Regions from separate parts of the Homo sapiens genome. Here regions 1 and 3 are each linked to region 2. The links come from fine-mapping of genetic effects on gene expression. A gene starts in region 2. Each other region holds a variant in brackets. All regions are shown on one strand. Distances are between the middles of the regions.

Evidence for each region. PIP is the estimated chance that this variant, and not a neighbour inherited with it, causes the effect.
Region 1: its variant is fine-mapped to the expression of ARPC3 in skeletal muscle (GTEx, PIP above 0.99). The same link has a PIP of 0.9 or more in lymphoblastoid cells.
Region 3: its variant is fine-mapped to the expression of ARPC3 in blood mononuclear cells (TOPMed, PIP 0.97).

Annotation. Positions count from the first base shown.
Region 1 is chr12:110,514,884-110,523,065 of GRCh38, forward strand. RAD9B (RAD9 checkpoint clamp component B) reads left to right here. Exons shown (of 11, transcript NM_001286535.2): 6 at 167-273; 7 at 3,793-3,899; 8 at 3,991-4,055; 9 at 4,911-5,033; 10 at 7,294-7,528. Among named protein-coding and RNA genes, the nearest start is that of RAD9B, 17 kb to the left of the region's middle. RefSeq lists a silencer at 406-649. The variant C/T (reference allele first, on the strand shown) is at 4,361.
Region 2 is chr12:110,447,031-110,455,212 of GRCh38, forward strand. ARPC3 (actin related protein 2/3 complex subunit 3) reads right to left here and starts at 3,307. Exons shown (of 7, transcript NM_001278556.2): 1 at 3,225-3,307. The coding sequence starts at 3,230. GPN3 (GPN-loop GTPase 3) reads right to left here. Exons shown (of 8, transcript NM_016301.4): 7 at 6,713-6,841; 8 at 5,456-6,066. The coding sequence ends at 6,004. RefSeq lists enhancers at 1,863-2,715, 3,421-3,520.
Region 3 is chr12:109,791,797-109,799,945 of GRCh38, forward strand. TRPV4 (transient receptor potential cation channel subfamily V member 4) reads right to left here. Exons shown (of 16, transcript NM_021625.5): 6 at 6,818-7,116; 7 at 4,729-4,908; 8 at 2,533-2,691; 9 at 2,134-2,226; 10 at 1,731-1,804; 11 at 856-1,021; 12 at 567-633. Among named protein-coding and RNA genes, the nearest start is that of FAM222A-AS1, 22 kb to the left of the region's middle. The variant G/A (reference allele first, on the strand shown) is at 3,810.

The DNA of each region.
Region 1 (8,182 bases), 68 kb after region 2:
TATAGCAGCTATGTATAAGAAAGAAGGTAGGAGTTTGGGTAAATTTTTCTAAACCCAGGCCAAGTAATTATTTATTTCCAGATTAGAGATTTGAGTCCCAGTTAATAAGGTATGTCTTTCTGTTTGTTTTTCAAATAATGTTAATACTGTTCTTTACATTTTATAGATTGCTTGCTGATGCCATTGTTCTTTTTACATCAAGTCAAGAGGAAGTTACTCTTGCTGTTACTCCACTGAATTTTTGCCTCAAGAGTTCTAATGAGGAATCAATGGGTAAAGATTGTATCTGAAATGGTGTTTTGATGGGTTATTACTTCCTGTCTCTCGATTACTAACCATACTGCAAATATTAGTGACATAATTTTATTCCTGTCTAAAAAGCAGTAAGATGTAGAAAGGTTGGAAAAAGCTTTAAGAGATCCAACAAGTTTAACACAATCAGCAATTAAAATATTTGGCTTTGAAATTCAGGGTGTTTTAAAACTAGGAGAATGGGGCCAGGTGCTGTGGCTCACGCCTGTAATCCCAGCATTTTGGGAGGCTGAGGCAGGTGGATTACCTGAGGTCGGGAGTTCGAGACCAGCCTGGCCAACATGGCGAAAACCCATCTCTACTAAAAATAAAAAAATTAGCTGGGTGTGGTGGCTCAGGCCTGTAATCCCAGCTACTCAGGAGGCTGAGGCAGGAGAATCGCTTGAACCCGGGAGGTGGAGGTTGCAATGAGCCAAGATTGCACCATTGCACTCCATTGCCTGGGCGACAGAGACTCTGTCTCAAATAAAAGAAAAAAGAAAATTTGCTACGGTCTTTTGGCACAACAAGCTGTTTGAGACTCTTTGACCTTAGATAATATGTTTTTGGTGACAGCAGTAAGGAGAGGATACAAAGGAAAGAACTATTATTTTAAAGTGAAAAACCAGGGCTTAAGTTGGGTCACATGACTTTTGTAGTGTTTGTGCCAGGTTCTGTTCTAAATAGTTTGCATTTATGAAGTCATTTGATCTTCATAACAACTCTAAGATGTATGTAGGTACTATTATTATCCCCATTTTACATATGAAGAAATTGAAAGCACATATAAAGCACATATGAAGCAGTTGGACACTTTGGGAGGCTGAGGCAGAAGGATCACTTGAGGGGAGTTACCAGCCTTGGCAACATAGTGACACCTCATCTTTACAAAACATAAGAAAAATAGCCAGGCATGGTGGTGCACACCTGTAGTGTCAGCTACTTGGTAGGCTAAGGTGGAAGGATTGCTTGAGCCCGTAAGTTTGAGACTGCAGTGAGCCATGATTGTGCCACTGCACTCCAGCCCAGGCAAGACAGCAAGATCTTGTCTCAAAAAAAAAAAAATTGAAGCACAGAGAAACTGTGGCTTGCCTGGTGTCACAAATTGCCTAGTGAAAGGGTCTGTTTTATGTACCATCATGCCATCTCTGAATAAAGATGGCCATTTAGTAGCCAGGAGAAACTGTCCCTTGTGAGTAGCTTTCTAATGAAGTTATAGTTGACTGGCAATCTAGTTGTTTAATCTTATTATTAAACTTCTTCTATGCTAGTATATTAGGAGTGACATGAGCCTTCTTGTTGGAGATGAATGTATATTTAAGACATTGTTTGATCCTTTAAAAAATATATCATTTGGCCGGGTGCGGTGGCTCACGCCTGTAATCCCAGCACTTTGGGAGGCTGAGGCAGGCGGATCATGAGGTCAGAAGATCGAGACCATCCTGGCCAACATGGTGAAACCCCGTCTCTATTAAAATACAAAAAATTAGTGGGGCGTGGTGGTGTGCACCTATAGTCCCAGCTACTTGGGAGGCTGAGACAGGGGATTAATCACTTGAACCTGGGAGGCGGTGGTTGCAGTGAGCCAAGATCACGCCACGGCACTCCAGCCTGGCGACAGAGCAAGACTCTGTCTAAAATAATAATAATAATAAATATGTATATATATATCACTCAATCTTTGTTCTTACTACTTATATAATTGATATTCATTGAAGAAAATTAAAAATACAAAAAAAATTTTTTAAGTCACCTGATATCCCACTATACAGAGATAAGCACTTTTAATAGTTGGGTATATCTCCTTCTATACTTTAGATCTCACAACAGGAGATTGAGTGAAGATAATGAAATACTATGAAACTATTAAAAGTAACATTGGCCAGGTACAATGGCTCACCCCTGTAATCCTAGTGCTTTGGGAGGCTGAGGCAGGATTGCTTGAGGCCAGGAGTTCAGACCAGCCTGGCCAACACAGCAAGATCCCATCTCTACAAAAATAAAAAATTAGCCAGGTATGGTGGCATGCACCTGTAGTCTATGCTGCAGCAGCTGAGGCAAGGGGATCACTTGAGCTCAAGATTTCAAGGTTGCAGGTGAGCTATGATCATGCCACTGTATTACAGCCTGGGCAACAGAGTGAGACCCAGTCTCAAAAAAAATTAATGGGCCGGGCGTGGTGGCTCATGCCTGTAATCCCAGAACTTTGGGAGGCCGAGGAGGGCTGATCACCTGAGGTCAGGGGTTTGAGACCAGCCTGGCCAACATGGTGAAACCCTTTCTCTACTAAAAATACAAAATTAGCTGGACGTGGTGGTGTGTGCCTATAGTCCCAGTTACTCAGGGGGCTGAGGCAGGAGAATCGCTAGAATCTGGCAGGTGGACCTTGCACTGAGTCGAGATCACACCACTGGACTCCAGCTTGGGCAACAGAATGAGACTCCATCTCAAAAAAAAAATAATAAAAACATTAAAGTAATGTTATATGTGTATGTATAAATACATTCCTCTCTCTCTGAGGGTATGTATCAGAGAGGTTTAATGAAGCAATTTTGTAGTGGAAAACACAAAACATTGACACACACACACACACACACACACACACACACACACACAAATAATTATAAAAATGTGCTTATTGACATGGAAAAATAGCCAAGATATATTGATATATTATTGGGTAGATTATGAAATGGTATGTAGGGTAAGATTGTACTTTCATTTAAAAATATGGCCAGGCGCAGTGGCTCACGCCTGTAATCCCAGTACTTTGGGAGGCTGAGGCGGGTGGATCACGAGGTCAGGAGATCGAGACCATCCTGGCTAACACAGTGAAACCCCATCTCTACTAAAAGAAATACAAAAAATTAGCCGAGTGTGGTGGTGGGCGCCTGTAGTCCCAGCAACTCGGGAGGCTGAGGCAAGAGAATGGCGTGAACCCGGGAGGCACAGCTTGCAGTGAGCCGAGATTGTGCCACTGCACTCCAGCCTGGGCAACAGAGTGAGACTCCGTCTCAAAAGAAAAAAAAAAAAAGTTAAAAATGTGCATGTAAGTGGCAGATGCCTGTAGTCCCGGCTATTCAGAAGACTGAGGCAGAGGATCACTTGAGCCCAGGAGGTCAAGGCTGCAGTGAGCTGTGATCATGCCACTGCACTCCAGCCTGGGCAACACAGTAAGACCCTCTCTCAAAAAGAAGAAAACAAAAAATTTATTAATTAACTTAGATAAGAAATCTGGTATTTAAACATAAACAGTTTAATTTATGTGAAATGGACTTATAGACCCTGAATCATTGGGTAGTTTAAGAGAAATGTAAAATATTAAATTTCTCTTTTGAACAAAGGCATTTAAAAATAGCATGCAGATATCAGGTGGGGAAGTTAGGGTACGTAGGGCAGGAGGAAATGGGATGGGATTTGGGAGACCAGAAAAATTCTTTTTTCCTCTAAATTCATCTCTGGAACTAATTTTATTCTTTATTTTCCCATAATATTAAACAGATTTGAGCAATGCTGTACACAGTGAGATGTTTGTTGGCTCAGATGAGTTTGACTTCTTTCAAATTGGAATGGACACTGAGATAACATTTTGTTTCAAAGAATTGAAGGTAAATAAAGATTTGTATCAATTTAAAATTCAAATTTTCACTGTAAGTTTTTATAAGGATTTTAAGTTTTTTTCTTCTTTTCTTTTTTCAGGGAATACTGACATTTTCAGAAGCTACACATGCTCCTATATCCATTTATTTTGATTTCCCTGGGAAGTAGGTCCTTGAGAATTTTTCTGAGCTTGTTTCTTTTGTTTTATATCAATAACAAAACCTTTTGGATCACTTTGAAATTAATTAACACCTCAGGAATACCTAAACTTTACTATTAATACTTATCAAACTAAAATTTTGAAAGATGCTAAAACATGGCATTTAAAATTTTCTTTTTTCTTTTTTCAGACGGAGTCTCACTCTGTCGCCCAGGCTGGAGTGCAGTGGCATGATCTCGGCTTACTGCAGGCTCTGCCTCCCGGGTTCAAGCAATTCTACTGCCTCAGCCTCCCAAGTAGCTGGGATTA[C/T]GGGCGTCTACCACCATGCCTGGCTAATTTTTGTATTTTTGGTAGAGACGGGGTTTCACCATGTTGGCCAGGCTGGCCTTGAACTCCTGATTTCAAGAGATCCACCAGCCTCGGCCTCCCAAAGTGCTGGGATTACAGGCGTGAGCCATAGCACCCGGCCTACTGTTTGTTGTTGTTGTTGTTGTTGTTGTTGTTGTTGTTGTTGAGATGGAGTTTTGCTTTTGTTGCCCAGGCTGGAGTGCAATGGTGCAATCTCAGCTCACTGCAACCTCCGCCTCCCAGGTTCAAGTGATTCTTCTGCCTTAGCCTCTTGAGTAGCTGGGATTACAGGCATGCACCATCATGCCCGGCTAATTTTTTTTTTGTATTTTTAGTAGAGACGGGGTTTCTTCATGTTGGTCAGGCTGGTCTCAAACTCGCAACCTCAGATGATCCACCCGCCTTGGCCTCCCCTGTTTCTTTTTAGTCCAGAATTAAGTATCATTTCTAATGTGTTTCTAATGTCCATCAGAAAATGAGTGTCACTGTTGCTCTGACTTGGCTTTTTTAGACCTCTGGCTTTGAGTATTGATGATATGTTAGTGGAAGCTAACTTTATTTTGGCCACATTAGCTGATGAACAAAGTAGAGCATCTTCACCACAGTCACTGTGTCTTTCACAGAAACGAAAAAGGTAAGACTGTGTTTTAACTTCTTTATTACTTGGGACAAGCCATCATAATCTTATTTTGAAATAATTCACTTGCATTCACTTAGGAAACAATTGAGGAGTGAAATATTAGTTAACAAATTTTGACTGAATACAGAAGAGCTGTAGTGAAACTTACCTGTAGCATAGAAACATCACCAATCTCGTGTCAGATATTTGCTTTTTCTGTTCTGACCAGAATTGAACAAGACTGTCTGGTTTATCTGTGTTGTTTCCCAGAACTCAATTCCAATTTTTAGTTTTTGTTGTTGTTGTTGTTGTTGTTATTGTTTTAGACAAGGTCTCACTCCCATTGCCCAGGCTTGAGTGCTCTGGCGCAATCTCAAGTCACTGCAGCCTCCATTTCCCTGGCTCAAGTGGTCCTCCCACCTCAGCCTCCCAAGTAGCTGGGACTATAGGCATGTGCCACCACACCCAGCTAATTTTTTGTATTTTTTTTTGTAGAGACAGGGTTTCACCATGTTGCCCAGGCTGGTCTCAAACTTCTGGGCTGAAGCCATCCACCTGCCTCAGCCTCCCAAAGTGCTGGGATTACAGGTGTGAGTCACCACATCGGGCCTTTAGTTTTTTTTTTTGTTTTTTTTTAGGGGTAATATAGTGTTTTCACAGGAAAGTCTATATTCACTTCCTAGAACTTTTGCTCAGATATAGGGATAGCCATTGCTTTCTTGCTTTCTTTTTTTTTTTTTTTTTTGTTGTTTTTTTTTTGTTTTTTTGAGACAGAATCTCACTCTGTTGCCCAGGCTGGAGTGCAGTGGCATGATCTCAGCTCACTAAAACCTCCACCCCCTGGGTTCAAGCAATTCTCCTGCCTCAGCCTCCCTAGTCGCTGGGATGACATGTGTGCACTAACACGCCTGGCTAATTTTTGTGTTTTTAGTAGAGACGGGGTTTCACTATGTTGGTCAGGCTGGTCTCGAACTCCTGACCTTGTGATCTGCCCGCCTCAGCCTCCCAAAGCGCTGGGATTACAAGCATGAGCCACTGCGCCTGGCTTTTTTTTCTTTCTTAATTTCTTTTCTTTTGGGGGAAGAATGATGCTTTATTGTAAAAGTTATTTCAGGAAATTTGGAAAATAGAGAAAAGTACAAAGAAGAAAATAAAACTTACTCATAATTGCATCACCCAGAGATAGCCACTGTAACATTCTGGCTCACTGCATTTTCTTTCAGACTTAATTTTGTGTATACTTGTATTTTCAAATTTTTTAAAAAAATTTTTTGAGACAGGGTCTCACTCTGTCACCCAGGCTGGAGTGCAGTAGCACAGTCATAGCTCATCATAGTCTCAACCTCCCAGGCTGAAGCATTCCACCTCAGCCTCCTGAGTAACCAGGACTACAGGCACCTGCCACCACACCCAGCTAATTTTTGTGTTTTTTGTAGAGATCGGGTTTTACCATGTTGCCCAGGCTGGTCTCTTAACTCCTGGGCTCAAGCAGTCTACCTGCCTCGGCCTCCCAGAGTGCTAGGATTACAGATGTGAGCCACTGCACCCGGCCTATCCTTGTATTTTAAAACAAGATTAGGATCATAGAGCATATGCGGTTTTGGTATTGTGGGTGTGTTTCAATATCACTGATAATGACTTGAAAACATAATTCTTTTTTTTTTTTTTTTTTTGAGTCAGAGTCTCGCTTTGTCACCCGGGCTGGAGTGCAGTGGCGCCATCTCAGCTCATTGCAACCTCCGCCTCCTGGGTTCAAGCAGTTTTCTGCCTCAGCCTCCAGAGTAGCTGGGATTACAGGTGCCTGCCACCACGCCCGGCTAATTTTTTTGTATTTTTAGTAGAGACGAGGTTTCACCATCTTGGCCCTGCTGGTCTTGGACTCCTGACCTCGTGATCCACCCCCCTTGACCTCCCAAAGTGTTGGGATTACAGGCGTGAGCCACCGTGCCCGGCCGAAAACATGATTCTTAATGACTGTACACAATTTTATCATATAGATGTATAGTAATTTACTTGACTTTTCCCCTAACTTGCTCCTGTTACCATATCACAAGATATTCTATGCACAATGAGTTGCTTTACTGAAAGATTGTCTGTCAAGAGAATTTATAAATGATCATATATATAAATTTTAACTTGCAACAATTTAGTTCCATGTATTTCAATATATTCCCTAATCCAGTGCTATCATTGTCATCCCACATTGTCCATTAGTTATATAAAAATATATTTCACAATAAACAGTTCATTCATTTAATGCCTATTAATACCTCAGGTCAGATCTGATTGAAAAAAAGGCTGGCAAAAATGTAACTGGCCAGGCCCTGGAATGTATTTCAAAAAAAGCAGCACCAAGAAGGCTTTATCCTAAGGAGACTCTCACAAACATATCTGCATTGGAAAACTGTGGCAGCCCTGCAATGAAAAGAGTGGATGGAGATGTCAGTGAAGTATCAGAAAGCAGTGTCAGCAACACAGAGGAAGTGCCAGGGTCTCTGTGTCTCAGAAAGGTAAAAGCATTGAGATTCAACCACATCTCAGTCAAGAATTCTCATCTGTCTCCCTTTGCAGTCTTCCTCCCCAATCCCCACCCAGCCATGTTCTGAAAATTGATTTTCTTATTTTTTGATAGGGGAAAAGTGAAGCTAGTCTGAATTATAGAATGAAGAAAAGTCTGATAGAGAAAAGTCTGATTTACAGAATATCAATAGAAAATAGTTAAATTGTTCAGTCAGTAATTTCTAACAAAGCATATTCAAGTAGAGGTTTGGGTCACTTGTTTCCAAGAATAAATTATGATTTTTTTATGGTATATTCTATCTTGAATAACAATAATATGCTGAGATCATATAAATAATTTGTTTCCTAAAATGTTTCCTTCTAATTTTACTTTTCAAATTTGTTTGGTAAATCTTGTATTCATAATAGTACAAACGTAAATTTCATCCCAACAAATATCACAAATTCCTTCATAGTGGAGTCCCAGTTAATAACATCTTATTCTATAAGATAGATGATAAGCTTTACAGAATGCTGTAGTGTTAAACCTTACGAAATCTACTGAACTGAAGGTAAGCAATGTATTAGAAACTGAAGTATCTCAAATATTGATAATCCTAATTTTACTTGTTTAATGTTTTGTTCAAGCTTGTTTTGCTGTTGTT
Region 2 (8,182 bases):
TGGTATCTGGCCAAAGTATTTCCACTACAGAAAGACAAACATCATATAAATCAGGGTACCCAGCCCCCAGCTAAACCAAGACCCAAGCACTATCTTTTCAGCTCTGCCACTTCATGGCGTTATGCTTTTGACCAAGACATCATTCTTCTTCTCTTAGCTTGTTTCCAAATTTGTAAAATGAGAAGATATATATTCCCTTCAGTGGGTAGGTGTGTGTTAAAGGAAGGGATAAAAAAAATCACATTTATGAGAGCATTTTGTATGCTGATTCTTAGTTCTGCTTTTTACAAGATGTCTGGCTTTTTATAAGTCAACATGGGTCCCATTCATATATTCATTCATTCATCAAATGATTGCTAAGCACCTTCTATGTGCAAGACACTGTGATATAGTAATATACAAAGTAGTACGATTCTGGTCCTTGAAGAGTAGAGAAGACAGACAGAAAATAATCACAGGATGGGATGGGCGGGGTGGCTCACGCCTGTAATCCAAACACTTTGGGAGGCTGAGGCGGACAGATCACAAGGCCAGAAGATCGAGACCACCCTGACCAACATGGTGAAACCCCATCTCTACTAAAAATATCAAAATTAGCTGGGTGTGGTAGTGCATGCCTGTATTCCCAGCTACTTGGGAGGCTGAGGCATGAGAATCGCTTGAACCCAGGAGGCAGAGGTTGCAGTGAGCCGAGATGGCACCACTGCACTCCAGCCTGGCGACACAGCAAGACTCTGTCTCAAAAACAAACAAACAAACAAACCCCTCCCCCCAAAAAAACAAACAAACAAAACCCAACAGAGTGAATCCAGGGTGCTCTATGTGCGATTGGAACCAGTACAGGGATTTAGAGTCCTTTTTTTTTTTTTTTTTTTTTTTGGAGACAGAGTTTCCTAGGCTGGAGTACAGTGGCAGGATCACAGCTCACTGCAGCCTCAAACTCCTGGCTCCAGGTGATCCTCCCACCTCAGCCTCTTGAGAGGCTGGGAGGACATGCACTACCACATCCAGCTAATTTATTTTTATTTTTGTAGAGGCAGGGTCTCATTATGTTGCCCAGGTTGGTCTCAAACTCCTGGGCTCAAGTGATCCTCCCATCTTGGCCTCCTAAAGTGTTGGGATTACAGGCATAAGCCACTGCACCCAGCCTAGAGTCCTGGCTTAAAACCTGGTTTTACCATTACTAGGCAACCTTGTCCAAATTAACTTCTCTGAGGCTCCGTTTCCTCTTCTGTAAAACAGGAATCATGGTACCTACTTCATAGGGTCGTTATGAGGATTAGATGGGATAATTTATAAAGTGTGTACCCCAGAGCTCAGGAGTCAAATGGTAATTATGGGATTCATAAAATATGCATTTGTGAGGCTGAGCGAGGTGGCTCATGTCTGTAATCCCAACACTTAGGGAGGGTGAGGCAGGAGGACTGCTTGAGCCCAGAAGTTTGAGATCAGCCTGGACAACATGGTGAGACTCTGTCTCTACTAAAAACACAAAAACTTAGCTGGGCATGGTGGCGTACACCTGTAGTCCCAGCTGCTCAGGAGGCTGAGGTGGGAGGATCACCTGAACCGAGTTTGTGTCACTGAACTGCAGCCTGAGAGACAGGGTCACACCCTGTCTCAAAAAAAAAAAAAATGTATTTGCAACTATGGCTTGCTCCTTTTCATCACAGGTATGCTTTATCTAAAGCAGCCTCCGCCTTCCCTCTCACCAACTGTCTTGTTACCCATCTAGCTTCTTTTTTTCCGGGGGGGGGGGGGGTGGTGGTACAGAGTCTCACTCTGTCACTAGACGAGTGCAGTGGCACGGTCTCGGCTCACTGCAACCTCCGCCTCCTGGGTTCAAGCGATTCTCCTGCCTCAGCCTCCCAAGTAGCTGGGATTACAGGCACGCACCACCACGCCTGGCTAATTTTTGTATTTTTAGTAGAGATGGGGTTTCACCATGTTGGCCAGGCTGGTCTTGAACTCCTGACCTCGTGATCCGCCCACCTAGGCCTCCCAAAGTGCTGGGATTACAGGCGTGAGCCACTGCGCCTGACCACCCATCTAGCTTCTTTATAGCATTTGTCACTACCTGACACTACCGTATGTATCTCCTTTATTATGTTTACACTTTTATTGTCTCGACTCCCGATTTGAATGTACATTCTTTAAGATTAGGGATTTGTTGAACTTATTTGCTGCTGTAAATACAGCCTGGCAGGCAGCAGGTGCTCGTTAACGTTTGTTAAAAATAATGTGTGAGCAGGCTGGGCGCGATGGCTCACGCTTATAATCCCAGCACTTTGGGAGACCGAGGGGGCGGATCACCTGAGGTCTGGAGTTCCAGACCAGCCTGGCCAACATGGTGAAACCCCGTCTCTACTAAAATGCAAAAAATTAGCTGGGCGTGGTGGCGCGCGCCTGTAATCTCAGCTACCCGGGAGGCTGAGGCACGAGAATTGCTTGAACCAGGGTGGTGGAAGTTGTAGTGAGCCGAGATCGCCTCACTGCACTCCAGCCTGGGCGACAGAACGAGACTCTCTCAAAAAACAAACAACAAAAAAAGTGTGAACAATCACATAATAACTGAACCACCTTTTCCCGAATCTGCAAAATGGAGACCATGACGGTGATAAATCTACCCCACAAACTGGCTGTCAGAAATTAAGTACAACCAGGCCGTCATAATTTTTTACTCCCACTCTGATGGCACACGAAAAAGGAAATCTTTGGAAGTCAGGCGCCGAACGAGTCTGTGAGGGCCCTAAACCCAGCTGGCTCCGGGATGGCCGCCGCTGCCGGGAAGTGGGTTCTGACAAATGACAAACAGCAGAGGGAGCCTGACCCCGGGGCGGAGGAGGAAGTGGGCCTGACAGAAAAAGGAGAAGCTAGACCCCTGGACTTGAAATATGAAAAATAAAAAGCGCAGCCCTTGGCTTCGCTCTCTAGTGAGGCTTTGGGAACCCTGCCGGAGTCGGAAGGAGTAGACGGAGAGAGAAAAGGGCCTCCTCACACACCCTGGACCCTTGGCCCACTCCTGCCGCGCCCCCGCCTCCCACGACTGGCACCCCCGGGCCGCCCCAATCCTTCAGCAACCGGTCCCCTCCCCTCGCCTCCCTCCTTCTCGGGCCCCAGCTTCCTCTCTGCCTTCCGCCGCCCGCTTCTCTCGGCACACACACGGTTTCTCTCTGCTCTTCGCAATCCCCGCTGTCTCCCCACACCGTGGATCGAACCCTCACCGGCATCTTGGCGGCGCCCGGGTTTCAACCCAGAGGAGCAGGATCCAGGTACAGCGGAGCGCTTCCGGTCTGGCAGCCTGGGCGAGGTAGGCGGAAGCGAAACGGAAGGGGCGGGTGCGGACGTGGAGCTTCCGGCCTTGCAGTTCCGCTTCTGGTTGCAGCGGCCGCGCGGATCTGAAGGAGGCGCCAGAGCACTAGGCAGGGGCCTTGAGTGGTGCAGCGTGAGGCAGCGCCCAGAATGGAGATGGGTCTTGAGGTTCCAGAATCTGAGATCAATCACCTCTTTTGTATTTTTTTCAAATGTCACCTTTTCAGGGCCGGGCATAGTGGCTCACGCCTGTAATCCCAGCACTTTGGGAGGTCGAGGCGGGTGGATCACCTGAGGTCAGGAGTTCGAGACCAGCCTGGATGGTGAAACCCCGTCTCTACTAAAAATACAAAAATTAGCTGGTCGTGGTAGCATCCCAGCTACTCGGGAGGCTGAGGCCGGAGAATCGCTTGAACCCAGGAGGCAGAGGTTGCAGTGAGCCAAGATCGCGCCGCTGCACTCCAGCCGGGATGACAGTGTGACTCTCTCAAAAAAAAAAAAAAAAAAAAAAAAAAAAAATCACCTTTCCTGTGAAGCATTCTCCGTTCATTCTATTTTCAGTTCACCCAACTCCAGCCCCATGCCTTATCCTTCTCTCCCGCTTTTTCCCTTAGTTCTTACGATTCTTGTATTTAGTTTACTCTTAGTGCTTGTGAATGCCAAAAAGGCAGCACTTCGTCCGTTTTGTCACCTGCGCCCGTAACAGTGACGGTATGTAGGAAACATCAATATTTGAGTGAATGAATGAACCCAATGCACTGCATCTAAAAATGGAGAAACTGAAGGGCACTGGACTCCAGGTTTGAATCGCAGCTCCAATACATACTAGCTCTGTAATTTTGAGCAAGTTAACTGGCCTGTGCTTCAGTTCCTCACCTGAAAATGGCAGTAACAGTATTTACCTCATAGTTTTGTGAGGATGAAATGAATTACATGTAAAATGCTTAGAACTTACATGCTTGGAGCATACTGAAAGCCCAGAGTTTTAACTTATTTATTACTAGAAAACTTCTTATGTTAAAAGTCAAGTTCATTGCTGCCTGAGAGCCATTTCTTCTGCCAGTTCCCAGCCTGAAATAGGACCCCATGTTCCCACATCTGATTTCACATTCAGCTGACTGGGCAAATAGCACCTTTTAGGCAAGGTCTTTTTTGACAAAGAGCCCAAAGTAGCCCCATAATCACTCTCCATTTCTTTTCTGCTTTTCTTTCCATCCTCTCTCTGAGGTTTCCTTCCTCATGGTCAGTCTCACAGGCCCAGCATGGCAGCCCCACGTGAGCAAGGCCCTGCCTGCACTGTGCATCCCTGTTCTATCCCCAGTGTCTGGCATCCACGGAACTTCAGTAAATTTGTGTAAATTTACTGAATTTCTGTCAGCCCTGCCTATGAGACAGTGAAATCCTCGAGGACTGGAATTGTCAGATTCATCTTTGAAACCCCAGTGTCCAGTGGGGAAGGCACTGGAATCGGGTCCTTCACTTTTTCTCCACAGGCACATACCATACTCTCTAGAAGCTAAACCAGGGAGGACCAAGGAAGAGGGCAACTGAAAATCTGCCTCTTCTTTCTTCCCCTCCCATGTGACAATAAGTTTCTAAGAATTAGCAACCCTGGGAGATCAGGCTGTTTCCACACTATCTATCCTCTAAGGGCCACAGGAAGGTCCCCAGGCAGCCCAGCACATCCCCATGTTGCCCACTCATCATGCTCCTCCCTGAGTGGACCATGGGGTAGACACCCGACCCTTCCCTCTAGCCTGGCCCCCAGGCATAAGCTACCACCGATACTTACAGGTCCTCACATTTTTTTTTTTTTTGAGATGGAGTCTCACTCTGTTGCCCAGGCTGGAGTGCAATGGTGCGATCCTGGCTCACTGCAACCTCCACCTTCTGGATTCAAGGGATTCTCCCACCTCAGCCTCTCAAGTAGCTGCGATTACAGGCACGCGCCACCACGCCCAGCTAATTTTTTGTATTTTTAGTAAAGACAGGCTTTCACCATGTTGGCCAGGTTGGTCTTGAACTCCTGACCTCAGGTGATCCACCTGCCTCGGCCTCCTAAAGTGCTGGCATTGTAGGTGTGAGCCACCACGCTTGGCCACATTTTGCTTAATTAAAATGAATCAAATTAGACACTGCAGTGTACTTGTTATCTAGGTCCAAGAATCATTAAAAACCTTTGTTTCTTTTATATATACACATACATATCTCAAAACATAGTTATTTTTACTTTTTAAGTTATATAAATAATATACATTTTCAATATAGGAAAATGGGAAGATACAGATAAGCAGTGGTCTTATATATATCCTTGCAGCTTTTTCCCTTCGGACATACATATTTTGTTACAGTAATTCCTGCATCTCAAAAATAATACAAAAAGTGAAAATAAGTTTAGACCAGCCTTAACCTTAGCTCAGGTGCTAATTTATATATAAATCTATGTGCATTCATTTCAATTTTGACTTACAAAATCTAAAGTGATGCTGTTATAATACTAAAAGATTCCACTTTAAACAGCAGCAGTTTCAGAATAATTAAAAATTTGATTCAGGCATGAGGCTGATAAAGAACGAAGTTTTACTTTTTTTCATTAAAATAAGTAGCTTTCTACTATTGCATCCTTTGAAGAGAAGAATGTTCTGCTGGTTTGGCCACAAGCTCTTTAGATGGTTACTTTTAGTAAACTCTTCATTCATCCTGGCATTCTTGAAAATATTCGTCAAACATAGAGGAAGACTCATCTTCACGTTCCTGACACAATGGAAACACAAAATAGAAAATATATTCATTTCCCCTCAGTCAGAACTAGTATGTGTTTATATATTTTTCAGGTAATACCCTATGTGGAACTAATTACCCAGCACCAGCTCCAGGTGCTGCTTATAGGTAACTGTTAATAGTAAGAAAAGGCATGATTGACAGATTTTTTTCCAGTTATGTAGTAAATTAATGTGCTTCTATCCCAGAAGCATTTCTCATTTGAATTTACATTCAAGACGATTCTTGGCTAATTTCCTGTGATAGTGCTTTACTTCGCTGGTAGTCTAGTGGTCAGGAAAATAAAAAATAAAAAAATAAAAAAATGCTTAGCTGATACTATCATTAGTCTTCTCAATGACATACGTGAGGGCAGCCCAATTTCACCTCCTCTTTACACATACACCCAAGCTCTAAGTACACACAGGCTTCATCATACTGCCTCAACAAAAGTAGAGTAAAAGTGATACTGCTTGTGGAGTACAGTGTTAATTTCAGAGATCACCCAGAAAAGCCCAGTTAACTGCCATCAATAAGACAAAAAACTAATTTAAGGAGTCGCCTGGATTATGCAAGAGTCCAGTGAGTGCTGGCAAATATTTTTATCAAAAGCTAACAAACACCCCAAACCAGAAATTACCTTTGGTTCTTTAAATTCTAGGTCTTCTCCATATTGAATGGCAAAATCAATATGCTGCAATACAATGTTCATGCTTTCTTCATCTGACTGATCGTAAGGTAAAAATCGAACCATGCTGTAGTCATCAATCTACAAGTTGTGGATTTCAAGAAAAGTTCATTCTGAAGTTGTGCAAAATACATAATTTTCAACTTATATTTGAGTTTTATAACCATTTGTACTTCTGAATAAAAACACTGATGTGTTTACAGGAAGAGGAGGAGAAGGGATAGCTAGACACAGAGAGTAAATCATTGATTTTTCTGACTTCTGATCTGCTAGAACACTTGTTAGCTTATTACTTTAACTAGACACTGTTTCACGGCTATTTATCTGAATTCAACAACCACTGGAAATTTCACAAGAGAACAAACAGTCCTGAACTCTCCAAATGGCTTGAAATAATAAGATGTTAGTTTATTTATTGGCCACTACCAATAACTACTTCTAAATTAAACTGCTGACTGACCAGCCCACAGCCCTTTTCCCTCCACTTTGCAGAAAATAGGGTTGAACTGTGCTTTTTATATGGCAAATGACTGGACACAGGCAAACACTTGACCAGGTGTTTAGGAAAAAAACCCAAAAAACTTCATCTTTTTTTTTCTTTTTTTTTTTTTTTGGGGAGACAGAGTTTCGCTCTTGTTGCTCAACCTCCACCTCCAGGTTCAAGCAATTCTCCTGCCTCAGCCTCCTGAGTAGCTGGGATTACAGGTGTGCCCTACCATGCCCGGCTAATTTTGTATTTTTAGTACAGACGGGGTTTCACCATGTTGGTCAGCCTGGTCTTGAACTCCTGACCTCAAGTGATCCACCTGCCTTGGCCTCCCAAAGTGCTGGGATTATAGGCGTGAGCCACTGCACACCTGGCGCCCTTTTTGTTTTTGTTTTTTTTTGAGATAGGGTTTCTCTGCTGCCTAGGCTAGAGCACAGTGACATGATCTGATCATGGCTCACTACAGCCTTGACCTCCCAGGCTCAAGGGATCCTCCCACCTCAGCCTCCACAGTAGCTGAGACTACAGGCGTGCAGCACCATGCCTGGCTTTTTTTTTTTTGAGACAGAGTCTTGCTGTTGTTGGACCGGGCTGGAGTGCAATGACAAGATCTCGGCTCACTGCAACCTCCACCTCCTGGGTTCCAGCAACTCTCCTGCCTCAGCCTCCCGAATAGCTGGGATTATAGGCATGCACCACCACGCCTGGCTAATTTTTGTATTTTTTAGTAGAGATGGGGTTTCACCATGTTGGCCAGGCTGGTCTCAAACTCCTGACCTCAGGTGATCCACCCACCTCGGCCTCCCAAAGAGCTGGGATTACAGGCGTAAGTCACCGCGCCTGGCCTAATTTTTTTTTGTTTTTGAGACAAAGTCTTACTCTGTCGCCCAGGCTGGACTGCAGTGGCATGATCTCAACTCACTGCAACCTCCGCC
Region 3 (8,149 bases), 660 kb before region 2:
TTTTGAACTTGTGCTAGTTATTTAACCCTCCTAAGCCTCAGTTTCCTTTTCTATAATAGGGGATAATAAAGGCACTTAGCTTACAGGCTTGTTGGGAGGCAAGGATGGAAACGTACTTAGTCTGGTGCCTGGCACACAAATAAGAACTCAGTGGCCAGGCGCGTTGGCTCACACCTGTAATCCCACCATTTTGGGAGGCCAAGGAGGGTGGATCACCTGAGGTCAGGAGTTCAAGACCAGCATGGCCAACATGGTGAAACCCCATCTCTACTAAAAATACAAAAAAAAAAAAATTAAAAAATAGTGGGGCGTGGTGGCAGGAGCCCGTAATCCCAACTACGTGGGAGGCTGAGGCAGAATTACTTGAACCTGGGAGGTGGAGGTTACAGTGAGCTGAGATTGTGCCATTGCACTCCAGCCCGGGCAACAGGAGCAAAACTCCACCTCAAAAAAAAAAAAAAAAAAAAAAGAACTCAGCAAGGCTGCTATTGTCCCCTATACATCATGGCTACTGTTCCCGTCCTTGCACCACCCCTGCCAGGACCACCTGAGCACCCAGAGCTCACCTGAAGCGTAGCCGATCATGAAGAGCAAGTAGACGAGCAGGAATCGGAAAAGGTCCTTGAAGAGAATCTAAAGACCCCAGCGGGATTATGGAGGCAAAGAGGAGACACATGGTTTCTCACTTTCCCCATTCCTCCATCTCCACCCTGGTCCCACCCCAGTGTCCAGACCATGCCTCCTGCCCCCACGGTACCCAGCATCCTCAGGTCTGCAGGTGCATAAGTGTGCATGTGGTGTGTGTGTGACTCCCTCCAGGAACACACGAGTCCAGAGGGTCCTCCCAGCCCGTACCTTCTGGATCATGATGCTATAGGTCCCCGTCAGCTTCAGCCCACGGGTGAAGTAAAGGGCATTCATCCAGCCCAGGACCAGGGCAAAGACCATCACGGCCAGGTAGGCCTCGATCCCTGCCAGGTAGAGGGCTGCTGAGACGATCACCAGGACAGAGTAGATGAAGCTGCAGTGCAGCAGAGACCACAAGAGAGGCCAGAGGGGAGAGGGGACAATGAGGCTCTGGAGGGGAAGACACGCCTCCAAGCCCTCCAGGGTATCAGGACTTCCCAATGCCTTCTAGACCCCCAGAAAAGAAACAAAGTGGATTAGCAGGGTTCCCCAGCATTCTGTTAACAAGAACATTCAATTAGCTGGCAATTAATCCTGAGGTCCCACAGGATCCTGAAGTGATGCCCCTTGGAATTGCTAAAGAAAGATTTAGTGGTGTTCAGTGGAGATTTTGTGGCTAAGTGAATTTCATCATTCTCCAACTCTAAGGGAAATGTGAAAGAGGTAACACACACTCAGTAACTCTCTCATTCTCTGTCCCAGGCAGACATCATTAATCAATCCCAACTCTTTCCCACTAAACACAGACACAGGTGCAAAATTCTTAACATGGCACTTCAGGCAGACATTAGCAATCATTCACCAGCATAAGAGGTTAAAATTATTTCTATCCATGTTGTATATGATAACTCCCTAGCAATCAGAATTTTTCTTGAACCAGAAGACCCTATTGTTTGTGGCTTTGTCCTGACTTTGGGTTAGAGCTGCCCAGGTTGGGTGCATTCATTTCTAACAGAATCACCTCTCTCCTGAATCTGGACGACCTAGCAGCCCAAACCCACCTTCCTCACCCAGAAGCTGCCGGCCCAGGGACCTCTACTCACTAGAGCAGCTGGAAGGAGCCATCAATGAAGAGAGAATTCACTCCAGGGCATTTCTTCATGAACAAGTCTTTGATCTGGAAGACAGGAGGGGGCACGTGAAAGGGGTGGGGCCAGCAGGAGAGGAGAGGAGGAGAGAGGAGACAGAGAAAGGGATAGAAGAGAGGGAGGCAGAGGCTGGTACAGAGAAAAGACAAAGGACTCTTTCCTGTTAGAAAAGGAGAAAAAAGCAGAGATGGAGAACGTGGGATTGGAGGAGGTAGAAGAGAAATGGGAAAATAAAAGGAGGAAGGAAAGGAGAAGGACCATTTGGAGGAGAGAGAAGAGAAAAAGAGGGAGAGAAAAGAGGTGCAGGAAGAGAAGAGGAGGGCAGGCAGGGTGGGGGGCACGGGGGCCAGGCACTTACGTTGGTGAAGAAGAACAGGACCCCAGTGAAGAGCGTAATGACCTCGCCAGCCAGCCGCAGGTAGTCCACCGTGGTGCGGTAAGGGTACGGCGGCTGGGGAGCAGCAAGGGCACACAGGTCGTCACCCAGCCCCTCCAACATCTGGCCCCCAATCCAGATGTTCCCCCAGGCCCGAAACATCGGCATCCCATGGAGCCTCCTCCTTCACTCTCTTCCTCCTGAGTCTTCCTCCTCCCAGCTCAGGGCCACCCGTGGATGCTGGAGGGCGCCTCCCCAACCTGTTCCTAAACCTTCTCCGGGTCCCCCTACAGGGGACCCAGAAGGATGAGGTTGTGCCCCAGTCCTGCATGGCTCAGCCCAGTGCCTGCCCCAGCCCCTGCCCGGTCCCCGGGCACTCACTGTGCCCTCCAGCGGCTGGTAGTAGGCGGTGAGAGTGAAGATGACCATGGCACACAGGTAGGAGACCACGTTGATGTAGAAGGAGACGGCCCCGAACTTGCGCCACTTGTCCCGCAGCAGTTCATTGATGGGCTCCACAGCCAGCATCTCGTGGCGGTTCTAAGAGAGGCAGGGTGGTCGGGGGCTGCCTTCCTGAGATGGGTGGGGGGTCCAGGCAGGCTGCCTCGGGTGTGCCTTCCCCCACCCTCCACCCGGACAGCGCTTTCTCTTTCCATCCATTCCTCAGCTGCATTCACGGATTCATGAATGGATTCAGCTGCCCAATTCTGCCTCAATGTACCTTTCCACCCTATTCTAGCATCACAGAACTCGGAACTGGAAAGTCCCTTAAAAGACATTTATTTTCAGGCCGGCCGCAGTGGCTCATGCCTGTAATCCTAGCACTTTGGGAGGCCAAGACAGGCGGATCACCTAAGGTCAGCAGTTCAAGATCAGCCTGGCCAATGTGGTGAAACCCTGTCTCCACTAAAAACACAACAATTAGCCGGGCGTGGTGGTGCACACCTGTAATCCCAGCTACTCCTAAGGCTGAGGCAGGAGAATCACTTGAACCTGGGAGGCGGAGATTGCAGTGAGCCTAGATCGCACTACTGCACTCCAGCCTGGGCAACAAGAGTGAGACTCCATCTCAAAAAAGAAAAAAAGACATTTATTCTCATGGTTCCCAAACTCCAATCTGTGGATAGTACCAAGCTGCTGGCCGCAAAATAATTTATGTAACTTGCTGCAAGTATAAATCCTGGCCTCCGCTCTCAGAAATTCTGATTCAGAGAGAAAGATTGAGAAATTTTGCCCAAAGATGATAAATGATTGACTCACCACAATTCTCCAATTCTGAACCCAGGGCAGACATCAATAATTGAGCCCTGCACAATTGTATTCATACAGTTCCCTGGGTAGACACTACTAATCAATCAGTTTGCACCTGAGATGCTAAACCTCCTGCCACCACTAATTTAAATCAAGATGGTCACTAATTCAAAAAATGAGGGAAATGAGGTCTTGCAAGGAAGCCAAGCTCACAGACCAGTAAGCCACAGGGCAGGGCTAGAAGGAAGACCACCTGCACCCAGTCCCCAGCATTTTCTGCTCCATTTTTATAGCTTCCTAGCCCTTTATTAACTTGAGTTTCTCTATAATCATGATTTGTGCAATAAAGCAGCCACAGAGATGCTCTTATAGTGTTATTCCTGATAAAGGCAGAAACAAACCCAAGC[G/A]ACCAGCAATAAGAGAACAGTTCATTTGAATATGGTATGTTTACATGCAGCGACAATATTACCAAAGAATATTTAAAAGTACAGAACGACGTTCACAAAATACTGCTAAGTAGGGAAAAAAAAGCTTGGTTTTTTGTTTGTTTGTTTGTTTGTTTATTTTGAGACAGGATCTCACTCTGTCACCCAGGCTGGAGTGCAGTGGCATGATCTCGGCTCACTGAAGCCTCGACCTCCCCAGGCTCAGGTGATCCTCCCACCTCGCCTCCCAAGTAGCTGGGACTACAGGCTCGCACCACCATGCCTAGCTAATTTTCATTTTTATTATTTTTTTTTGGTAGAGACGGGGTTTCGCCATATTGCCCAGGCTAGTCTCAAACTCCTGGCTTCAAGCAATCCGCCCACCTTGGCTCCCCAAAATGCTAGAATTACAGGCATAAGCCACCATGCCTGACCGAAAAAAAAGAGCTTTCAAAAGTTCATATAACAACCATGAGTAGTAAAAGCTGACATAATGTTTACTCTGTGCCAAGCCATTCTAAAATTAACCTCTTTGGTCCTCCCAAGAACCCCATGGGATATCCATGATCCTTATCCCCAGGTTACAAATGAAGAAGCTGAGACCCAGAGAGGTGGAGCCACTTGTCCTGAGACACACAGCATGTAAGTTACAGAGCCAGGATCCCAACCCAGTCCTACCTGCCCCAAAAGTCCATCTTCCCACAAGTCTTGCTCATTTCCTCACATGGCAGACACTGTTCTGGGCACTTAGTTGGCACCTTCTCTTGCATTCAGCCAACAGACCCACCACGTTGGGTCCTAGAGGCTGGGGCTGTCTCCCCCAGCCCAGCCCCAGGGCCCTGTCCCTACTCCCAGCCCTGCCCCTCCTTCCTCACACCCCATGCCCCCTCCTGGAGCCCACCTCAATCTTGCTGTTGTACACCAGGATCTCCAGCACGGAGGCCTCTTCCCCACACGTGTCCAGGGAGGAGAGGTCATAAAGCGAGGAATACACTGGCCCATAGGCCCAGTCCTTGAACTTGCGGGACAGGTGCCGTGTGTCCTCATCCGTCACCTCCCGCCGGATGATGTGCTGAAAGATCTGCACAGGGGGCCAGGAGGGTCAGGGGGCTCACACTGGAAAGACCCCCAGGGCTGGGCCCAGCTCAGCACATGACGCCTCCCCAGAAAACAGCTAAGCACCGGCTGCTGGAGGACCCTTTCCTCATCTTGTTTAATTCTTGCTCTTATTATCTTGGTTTACAGATAAAGAATGGAGGCTGGGAAAAACGAAGGGTGTTCCAGAAGCCACTTAACCAGTCAGCTGGAGCCAGACAGAACCTGGATGAGCCTTCAACATCTTAATTGTAATGAATATCTTCTTCATGCCGTTAAAATAGCAATGAATCCATCTTAATGACATGTGAATTATAATACTGACGATCACATGCGGTCCTTCCTGTTACCACTCCTCCTTCCCTGGCTTACACACAGGGAAGCGGAGGCACAGAGAGGGGTGGGAATTGCCCAAGGTCAGGCAATGTTAGGATTTTGGGGTTTTTGTTTTGAGACAGAGTCTCTCTCTGTCACCCAGGCTGGAGTGCAGTGGCGCGATCTCAGCACACTGCAACCCTCTCCTCCTAGGTTCAAGCAATTCTCCTGCCTCAGCCTCCTGAGTAGCTGGGATTACAGGTGCCCACTATCACACCCAGCTAATATTTTTGTATTTTTAGTAGAGACGGGGTTTCACCATGTTGGCCAGGCTGGTCTTGAACTCCTGACCTCAGGTGATCCGCCCACCTCGGCCTCCCAAAGTGCTGGGATTACAGGCATGAGCCACTGTGCACAGCCAGGATTTTGGGGTTTTTTGAGACAGGGTCTGGCTCTGTTGCCCAGGCTGGAGTGCAATGGCACTATCACAGCTCATTGCAGCCTCAACCTCCTGGGCTCAAGTGCTCCTCCCACCTCAGCCTCCCAAAGTGCTAGGATTACAGACACGAGCCACTGAGCCTAGCCAAAGCCAGGATTTAAACTGGAGCCTTTCTACTGCCTCAGGGCCATGGTATAATTGCAATTTTAGTAATTTTTGCTACATTTTTTTTTATTTTGGTTTTTATTTATTTGGGATCTCAAATAATCCAGGCTGGACTTAAACGATCCTCTCACCTCAGCCTCCCAACTAGCTGGCATTACAGACATGTAAGTGACACTTACTGCTTCTCCCAGGCTCCTTCCTAAGAGCCTTATGTGGATCACCGCATTTGTCACAACACCACACCAGAGGACACTCTTATATCCCCATTTTACAGACAAGGAAACTGAGGCACAGAAAAGGGAAATGAGATGTCTGAGGTCACACACTGGGAAGTGGTAGCGCCAGGGCTTGGACAGGTGCTCCTGCCTCTAGCATACTCCAGACTTGGTTCCCAATCCAGCGATGGTGCCCCCCAGAGGACAATTCAGCAATGTTCTGGAGATATTTTTGGTGGTCACAAGTGTAAGGGGAGGTGTTCCTGGCATCTGGTGGGTAGAGGCCCGGGATGCAGATCAATGTCTGGCAATAGCACAAGACGGTCCCCACCACAAAGAGCCTGCCGCCCAAAATAATCATGCTGAAGTTGAGAAACCCTTCTCCAGGCCCCATGCTGCGCGGCCCAGAAAAGGGAAGGAACTGGGGCAGGGCCATTCAACAGGTTTGAGGCTGGGAGCACCGCTGGGCTAGGGCCCGGGGACTCAGTTTCTTATCAGTGGCTCATCCTGGCTGGTGGGGGTGGAGTGGTGAACATCCAGTAGGGTGACATGAGGCGAGAGGCTCGGGGATGAAGCTAAGGAGCTTGGCTGGACACTAGGGAGCCATAGCAGGTTCTTGAGCTGGGACATCTGCACACTGGGGTTGGCATGTTGGGAGGTGCATGCACGTATTAATAATGAATACCAGCAGCAGACCCTCGTGTGTGTGTGCAGAGGGGTACGAGTAGGTGGATCAGCTGTGCCCCCAGCCGCACACTCACCCCAATCTTGCCCGTCTTGGCAGCCATCATGAGGGGCGAGAGGCCGTCGTTGTTGAGCACGGCCTCCAGGTTGCTGTCGGGGAAGAGGCGGGCACACTTGAGCAGCAGCAGGTCGTACATCTTGGTAACAAACTTGGTGTTCTCACGGGTGTTGTCAGCAATGGCCACCAGCGCATGCAGCACTGTGTTGCCTCGCGAGTCCTGGCGCCGCATGTCCGCCTTCTTGTGGGGGTTCTCCGTCAGGTAGTTGACAATGTGGGGCTGGTTGGTGCAGGCAGCCAGCGACAGGGGCAGCTCCCCTGCGGGCCAGGGTGAAGGGTGGGAGGTCAGCGAAGGGGGCCCAGGGTGGGACTCTGCCTGCAGACACTCGGGGGACGGACACCGTGGCGCTCTGAGGATAATGACGGAGACAGCACCAGCAGTGGATATGAACTGCACGTTTCTCTGGGTGATGCCAGGGAGATGGGGTGTGGCTAGTTAAGGGCACAGCCACGCGATTTGGAGGCTGTGAGGGACTGGACACATCCAATGATGGAATTCTTTTTTTTTTTTTTTTTGAGACAAAGTCTCACTCTGTCGCCTAGGCTGGAGTGCAGTGGCACAATCTCGGCTCATTGCAACCTCCACCTCCCGGGTGCAAGCAGTTCTTGTGCCTCAGCCGAGTAGCTGGGATTACAGGCGCACGCCACCACACCTGGCTAATTTTTGTATTTTTAGTAGAGGCAGGATTTCGCCATGTTGGCCAGGCTGGTCTCAAACTCCTGACCTCAAGTGATCCGCCGACCTCGGCCTCCCAAAGTGCTGGGATTACAGGCGTGAGCCACCGCGCCCAGCTGATGATGGAATTCTTTGTGTGACTTTGTCCCTGAGCTGCACATAATGAATGCCTTTAAGCAGGGGCAAAATTCAAAATATTTCATGAGTCCAGTGATGACAACGGCAGTGGTGGGCTTTGGGCCTGGTGATGGGGCTGTTGGTCCCAGCATAAACCAGATTAAAGCACACAGACAATACAGAGCTGGGCGCTGACATCACAGCCCAAGGGCCTCTCGTGATCCCCACTGCACAGCTGGGGAAGGTGAGGCTCAGGGAAGTGAGGTCACATGCCTGGAAAGTGCAGAGTGAGGATTTGGCTTTTTTTTTGTTCTTTTCTTTTTGCTTTTTAAAGACGGGGTCTTGCTCTATTTTCCAGGCTGGAGTGCAGTGGTGCAATCATGGCTTACTGCAGCCTCGAACTCCTAGGTTCAAGTGATCCTCCAGCCTCGGCCTCCCAAGCAGCTGGGACTTCAAGCACATGCCACCATGCCATCTAACTTATTTATTTATTTATTT